2 linked regions of the Homo sapiens genome follow. The protein of the gene in region 2 interacts with the protein of the main gene of each other region in a pairwise test. Each region holds a gene or a part of one and is shown on either strand. Other genes may lie near its edges.

Region 1 (3,820 bases), about 16 Mb from region 2:
TGCACTGAAGCAATTTCCAATAATCAGAGATATTCAAGGATGACATGAGCATGTAGATGACCACCTACCAGCAACAGTGCACAGGGAATTCCTGCACTGGATGGGAGGTGGGAATAAATGAGAAAATAAAAGCAATCAGAATAAATTTCACATTTGCCCACACCAAGATTACCAACCTATTTGCACCTGTGTTGAGATGCTCTGTTACAAGGGATAAATTGTCCATGCTAATCTAATGTCCTTTACTTCAGTACTTGATCGAACCCCTCTCATCGACTTAAGGATATCACTTCTATGGTTGTCACTTCCTTCTTGTACATGACCATTTTCCTCCTCTCCACTAAATCATTCCCATTAGCACACAGACATCATCTTTTAGAAAAACCCTCCCTTGACTCCATTTTAAGATAGTGCTCCATTTTTGTTACCCTTCCCAGCAAAATTCCTTTAAGAGAAAAAAAAACCTGTTTATACATGCCATCTCAATGTCCTCTTCTTCCACTTTCATGAATTTAATTAGACTTTCATCCCCATCTCTCTACTGATAACTGATTATTAAGGTCATTAAGAACCTCTACATTGGCAAATCCAATGTTCATTTCTCAGTCTCATCTTAACCTATCAATCACATTTGACACATAATCTACCCTCCTCCTCCTTCGGGAAGCACACTGTTCTCTTCATCTCCAGGACACTTCACCTCCAAGACACTTCTCTGTTCTCTCACACTAGAAAGGCCACTCCTTGGTCTACTTTGCTAGTTCTTCCAACCTGTAAACAGTGGAATAACCTAGAGCTCAGTACTCAAATCTCTTTTCTTTAACTGTACTCATTCCCTAGGTGAGTGATCTCATCTACCTACTATATATACCAACTATATATTATCTACTAATAAATTTATGTTTATAGTCCTGACTTCTCACCCTTGAACTCCAGACTCTTAAGCCAAACTCTACTCCAGCTCCACTTAAATGTCCAATTAACACTTCAAATCAGCACATTCAAAACCAACTCTTTATTACCCAACTTAAGTATGCTCTTCACCATTTCAACAGATGGCAACTGAATTTTTTCAGCAATTCAGACCAGAAATCTTGTAGTCATTGCTGATTCCTCTTTCTCTAATATTCAGTTCATCTTGTCAGCTAGTCCTTTAATTTCCTGAATCTGACCACTTCTCACTTCCACTCCTACCAAGACACCACCACTCTGAACTATTACAACAGTCTCTCGCAGTCTATTTTCCATAAAAGCGGCCAAAATGATCTGTTTAAAACATAAATCAGATCACATTACTCCTCAGCTCAAAACCCTCTAATGACTTCCCAACTCTGCAGAATAAAATAACTTATAAGAGAGAACTTCCCTCTCTACTCTAAAATAGCACACCTGTTCCTCCATTACTCTGTTAACTCCCTTACTTTGCTTTTTCTCACAGCATTTACCATCTGTTACTACATATTAATTTATTTTATTTTCATTAGAATAGTTTCTTGCACTTGACAGGGACTCAAATAATTGTTGAATAAATGAATGAGTGACTTCTAATATTCCTTTTCTTTGGCCATTTATACTTTAAGTTCAACAGTGACTAGTTGTATCCAGAAAAGGGATCTCCAGGTTGAAAACCACAGAGAACACCCTGGATTCTTATTTCCTGGGACTAGAGACAACAGCCCAAATAACTTGAAATAGAACTGGTAACACTCACTCTCAGAGGGTTTTCATTGAGGTATGGAGGCTCCCCTTCAATCATTTCGATGGCCATGATGCCCAGGGACCAGATGTCAACCTTGGGCCCATAGGCCTTTCGTGTCACAACCTCTGGTGCCATCCAGTATGGGGTTCCTACCATGGTGCTCCGTTTGCTCTGCTCTGGGGTTATCTGTGCACAGAATCCAAAGTCAGCTAGAAAAGAAAAATAAGAGAAAGAACATACATTTAGGATATACACTCACTTCAGTAAGTGTTGACTGTGTACCTACACATAGGTGACAAGATCCGCCTGGCTTCCAGCTCTGCTATCCTTTGTCTCTCCAAAGTCACTTGACTACCACCTTCATGTCTAGCTCCTAGCCTATTTCCTATTGAACCCTGAAGAGAAATAGAAGGAATATAAGAAACACCATCTCTGGCCTCCTACTTCTCCTCAAACCAGGGGACTTAGTGTTAAAGTCCAAGCTGCCCATTTTGGTCTTGATTGCTCATCCCAATTCTGCTTTGTTCTTGAAAAACCATTCCCATAATCCCAAATCTGGCGACTAGGTCCTTGTCTTATTCCTTGGGCACGAGTCCTTGATTTAAACCCCAATCACCTATGACTAGGCATGGCCCTGTTTTTATGCCCCAGACCCAGGGCTGCTAGCAGTCCTTCCATAAACTGCCCATCCACCCATGACACAGCCTGTTTGTCTGGTCTACTGGTCTTTACACCTTTGAACAAAATGCTCTACCTGCCATGGTTTTTACATTATATTGCAATTATAAATTTATTTAAATTAGGAAGCCTTTGAGAGTATGGATTATGTCCTCTTACTTGTCCTCATATCCCTAGAAGGACCAGCATGTACTGGACATTCAATAAAAGTTTGCTGAATAACTGAATGAAAGAAATTATACAAAACTCTTTTTTCTAATTATCTATTACACGTTTTCCATACTAGATTGAGAAGGTAGGGAAAATTTACTCTCAGTGCCCATCACAGGACCTAGCACAGAGTAACCATTCAGCAAAGTTTTTTGTGGTTGTTGTTAAATGTATAAATGAATGAAAAAATAATGAAATGATATCCTATGATTAATACAGAAAATATAAAACAGCCCTCATATCCCATGAAATCATAAAGACCCTTTGGTGAGTGTCGTAGTTACTATTATATGATGACCATCTCACAGGAGACAGGGCCCCACAGGCAGAGAAGTATTATCATTCCTAAGGCTCCTACTTACTTAGCTTGACAGAGCCATCCATTCCCAACAGAATATTGTCACTCTTGATGTCTCTGTGAATGACCTGGTTCGAATGCAAGAACTCCAGAGCCTGCAGACACTATTGAAGTGGTGTGGGCAGGGGGAGAAAGAAAGGACATACATATAATACAGAAGACTTAATAGAAAATCCACTAATTCAACCTCTTCACTTTAAAATAAAGGAAGTAAGGCCCCAGTGAGTAAAAGGACTTGCCCCAAATCAATCGCAGAGCCAGATCTAGAAACAAGTCTTCCATCTCCTAGCTAAACATTCTTTTAACACTCCATGCTGCCTTTCACCTTAAAACAGTTTTTTTAAGTAAAGGAGTTCCTCCAATGTAATTTTTTTTCTAATTAGATCCTTGGTAAAGGACCTAAGGCCCAAGAGAAATTACTGAAGAAAAATGGAAAGGATCTTATAATGACAGACCAGAGGAAAACAACAAATAAGGGTCATATTTGAGGAAGCAGACATATGGAAGTGATACTAGAAGCAGTAAGTTAGCAGGATAATCTTATTTTGGTGAGGAGATATTTTGTACTATTTTGGATATGCTGAATTTGATATCTGAAGACAAATGTCTGGTAGGCAACTTAATTTATGATAAATTATGGTAAATATTTACAAGTCATTTGGGAAGAGATGATTTTTGTTTAAGTTATAAAAATGGTTGAACCCGGCAAAGGGTAAAGGAGAAAGAGAAGAATCTTGGAAAACACCTATACTTAGCAGGCAGAATGAGTAATAAAGAGACACAATGGTACAATTAAAATGCCTGGTTCTGCTGCTACCCCATTGACTATATAATTCTGGACTTCCATCTATAAAATTTGGGAATCAGATGAGATC
Region 2 (3,820 bases):
TAAATGTTTTGTAACATTATTCAAGATATTCTCTTTGCAGAGATACAAAGATTGACTAATTGCCTCACTTTCTTTTCAGTTTATGCCAGTTATTCAGACAGAAAGTGAACACAAGCCTCCTGTAAATGGAAGTTACTTTGCCCATGTGAACCCTGCAGATGGAGGGTGCCTACTGGAGAAATACAGTGAGAAATGTCATGATTTTCAGTGTGCATTACTGGCTAATCTTTTTGCCAGTGAAGGCCAACCTGGCAAGGTGATTGTGTCCATAAAAATACAATATTCCCTAAATGTTCTCAGAAAGCTAAAAATGTGAACTTTTACTGCCATAAATATGGTTTTGCTAAGAAAATTAGTTTCCCACTTTGGGAGGCCAAGCTGGGTGGATAACTTGAGGTCAACTTGAGGTCAGGAGTTCAAGACCAGCCTGGTCAACATGGTGAAACCCCATCTGTACCAAAAAATACAAAAATTAGCAGGGTGTGGTGGTGTGTGCCTGTAATCCCAGCTACTCGGGGGGGCTGAGGTGAGAGAATCGCTCAGACTCGGAAGGCAGAGGTTGCAGTGAGCCAAGATCATGCTACTACCCTCCAGTCTGGGCCACTGAGTGAGACTCTGTCTCAAAAAAAAAAAAAAAAAGAAAATTAGAGCTTCCTAAGTCAAAGCTCTTTAAATAACCCAGTAATGAAAGGTTCAGAGAGTATGACAGGCAGAGCAAAAGTCATCTTTAAGGTTAAGAATAATATGGCTGGAGGCCAGACGCGGTGGCTCACGCCTGTATTCCCAAGCATTTTGGGAGGCCAAGGTGGGTAGATCACCTGAGGTCAAGCATTTGAGACCAGTCTGGCCAACATAGCGAAACCTCGTCTCTACTAAAAATACAAAAATTAGACAGGGAAGGTGGCACATGCCTGTAGTCCCAGCTACTTGGGAGGCTGAGGCAGGAGAATTGCTTGAACCTGGGAGACAGAGGTTGCAGTGAGCCAAGATTGCACCATTGCACTCCAGCCTGGGCAACAAAGCAAGACTCTGTCTCCAAAAAAAAAAAAAAAAAAAAAAAGAATAGTATGGCTGGCACAATGGCTTATGCCTATAATTCCAGTCCTTTGAGAGGCCAAAGCTGGAGGATCACTTAAGGCTGGCAGTTTCAGACCAGCCTGGGCAACATGGCAAGACCCTGTCAAAAAAAAAAAAAAAAAATTTTTTTTTTTAATTAGCCAGGTGTGGTGGTACATGCCTATAGTCCTAGCTACTCAGGAGGCTGATGCAGGAGGATCCCTTGTGCCCAGGTGTTTGAGGCCGCAACGAGCTATGATCACACCACTGCACTCCTACCTAGGTGACAGCAAGACCTGTCTTAAAAAAAAAAAAAAAAGACTACTTAGTAAGCAAGACCTTTTTCTGAGAACTAAAAGGTAATAGAATATTAATTTGGGGAGTGAGTTTGTCATCTACATGAACCATACAGCTAAAATAAATAATGCCTACTTACAGGTAGTAAATAGGTTATTTGCTTCTTTCTGATGAATCACACATTGCTCTAGATAGAAATGGTGGTAGCAAAAACTTACAGCAAGAACAAAGTAAGGAAAACTAATGCCTTACTTGATATTTACTTCCTATTAGTACACAAAAATATGATTTCAGTGTTAGCTTTTGTGAAGACTCTCCAGTTTTGGAAGTAGAGATAGCCTCTTCAGCTACTTTGAGATAAGAGATTGAGAAGTGAAAATACTTAACGTCCAAGTTGTGGAGATAATACAGAATTTTAAGGGAAGTGAGAAAATGTAATCATTTTCTCCTCATCCCCACTTACCAAAGGTTAATTCCTTTAACCAAAGAATTACCAAAGGTAATTCTCAATCTTTGACTGCCTCGACACGTATGTTAAGAGTCTCTAGACTCTCTGCACTGAGAAACTTGTCTTTCTCAGTTTCTCAGTTCAAGAAAGCATGCTTAAGACTTACTAGTAAATTACATGTAACTGATAAGTATGTGTGTGTGTGTGTGCATACATATATATATGACTGATCAAAATTCACGGGATTGCAACATCTCAACTCAGATCTGGGGGCTCTAAGCAAAGAACAGAATATTTGCTTGATAGAATTAAATTATATAATGTTTTATTTCAGTAGTTATTTTGCAGCATAGTCAATGGTATGCATCTTTATGTCCTCTATAGGTAATTGAGGTGAAAGCCAAAAGAAGAACTGGACCACTTAACTTTGTGACTTGTATGAGAGAGACCCTGGAAAAACATTATGGAAATAAGCCTATAGGAATGGGAGGTACTTTCATAATTCAGAAGGGAAAAGTGAAGTCTCACATTATGGTAAGAGCCCATGTGTGCATACATGCATGAAGGAGTTTGTGTGTGTGCACTTACTTAAGATCTTAGGATTTTTTTTTTTTTTTAAACGGATCCTTGCTCTGTTGCCCATGCTGGAGTGTAGTGGCACAATCTTGGCTCACTGCAACCTCCATCTCCCGGATTCAAGGGGTTCTCCTGCCTCAGCCTACTGAGTAGCTGGGATTATAGGCATGCAGCATCACAACCGGCTCATTTTGTAGTTTTAGTAGAGACAAGGTTTTGCCACATTGGCCAGACTGGTGTCGAACTCCTGACCTCAGCTGATCCACCTGTCTCGGCCTCCCAAAGTGCTGAGATTACAGACGTGAGACGCTGCACCGGGCCAGATCTTAGGATTGTAAAGTATGTGTTGGGAATTCTACATTTGAAGACACTTTAAACAAATCCTTTTTATTATGATTGTATTACTTTAAAATTTAAATGATAATTTTATAAATCAGATTGTAAGATAATATCTTTGTCCATGTTAGTATATTAGAACTTTATTTTGGATATGTTTGTTTTTAAGATCAAGATAAATTCAAGGCCTGCAGAGTGACTCATGCCTGTAATCCCAGCACTTTGGGAGGCCCAGGTGGGAGGACCGCTGGAGGCCAGGAATTCAAAACCAGCCTGGTCAACATAGTGATGATGGCAGCGGCAGGCTCTCTGGAGCGGCTGCAGCAGGGAGGCACGGCTGAGGCTACACACTCTATGGAGCGGGTGGGAGCTGAAGACAGGTGGGAGTCCTGCCCCTTCCGAGTTGGCGCTGGAGCTCCGTTGGTGCCGCTGCAATCGCCCAAGCCATGGCTGTAGTCCCTGGCATCCCTGTGCTCTCCCAGTGGGAACAGGCGAGAGCCCCAACTGCCCAGGCGCAGCTGCAGCAGCTCAAACCCGCGGCTGCAGACCTGGGTCTCCCGCTCCACGGAGCAGGCAGGAGCCCTGCCTTCTCCACACAGCTGCAGCTGCCCAAACCGTGGCTGCGGACCCAGGCATTCCTGCATTCTTGGGGGTCTGGGAAGGCCCCCACTGCTCTTACAGGCTTGGAAATGCCTGCTCCCACTGCCTGGCTTCTCCCTGCTGTCGGCGCCTGCTCCGATCCAGGAGCAAAGTCAGGCAGAGCCCGGTCGCTGTCGCAGCCCAGCCAGGTGTGCACACGCTCAGGGCACTGCTGACACACCAGCCCCCTGCCGTCCCGGCCCCTTCTGGATTTGGGGCGCTGACACGAGCGTAGAAGGGAAGCTGAGCGGCGGCTGAGAGCAGCTCCCCACTGGCCTTCAGGCACCCCTTGGCACCTACAGCCTGGATTCCGTGATCGGCAGCAGGAGGCAGACAGGTTCCGGGGCAGAAGGGGGCGGGTTTCCGGTGAGGCCCCACTTTCGGGCCAGGGAAGGCCTGAAGGCTGGGGGCCCAGCTGCCAATCCCACACACCAGAGTGGAAACTTGTGGTGCTTTTTCCAGGCCCAC

Evidence for each region.
Region 1: the proteins of C11orf54 (region 2) and PAK1 interact in binary tests that used the Homo sapiens proteins (3 or more experiments, as listed by UniProt).

Annotation. Positions count from the first base shown.
Region 1 is NC_000011.10:77,334,375-77,338,194, forward strand, and holds part of PAK1 (serine/threonine-protein kinase PAK 1), read right to left. Parts: intron 3,050-3,820; coding exon 2,950-3,049; intron 1,909-2,949; coding exon 1,712-1,908; intron 1-1,711. UniProt on the Homo sapiens protein: Protein kinase involved in intracellular signaling pathways downstream of integrins and receptor-type kinases that plays an important role in cytoskeleton dynamics, in cell adhesion, migration, proliferation, apoptosis, mitosis, and in vesicle-mediated transport processes.
Region 2 is NC_000011.10:93,755,131-93,758,950, forward strand, and holds part of C11orf54 (ester hydrolase C11orf54), read left to right. Parts: intron 1-79; coding exon 80-256; intron 257-2,185; coding exon 2,186-2,335; intron 2,336-3,820. UniProt on the Homo sapiens protein: Exhibits ester hydrolase activity on the substrate p-nitrophenyl acetate, in vitro. Regulates DNA damage and repair by regulating HIF1A degradation via chaperone-mediated autophagy (CMA).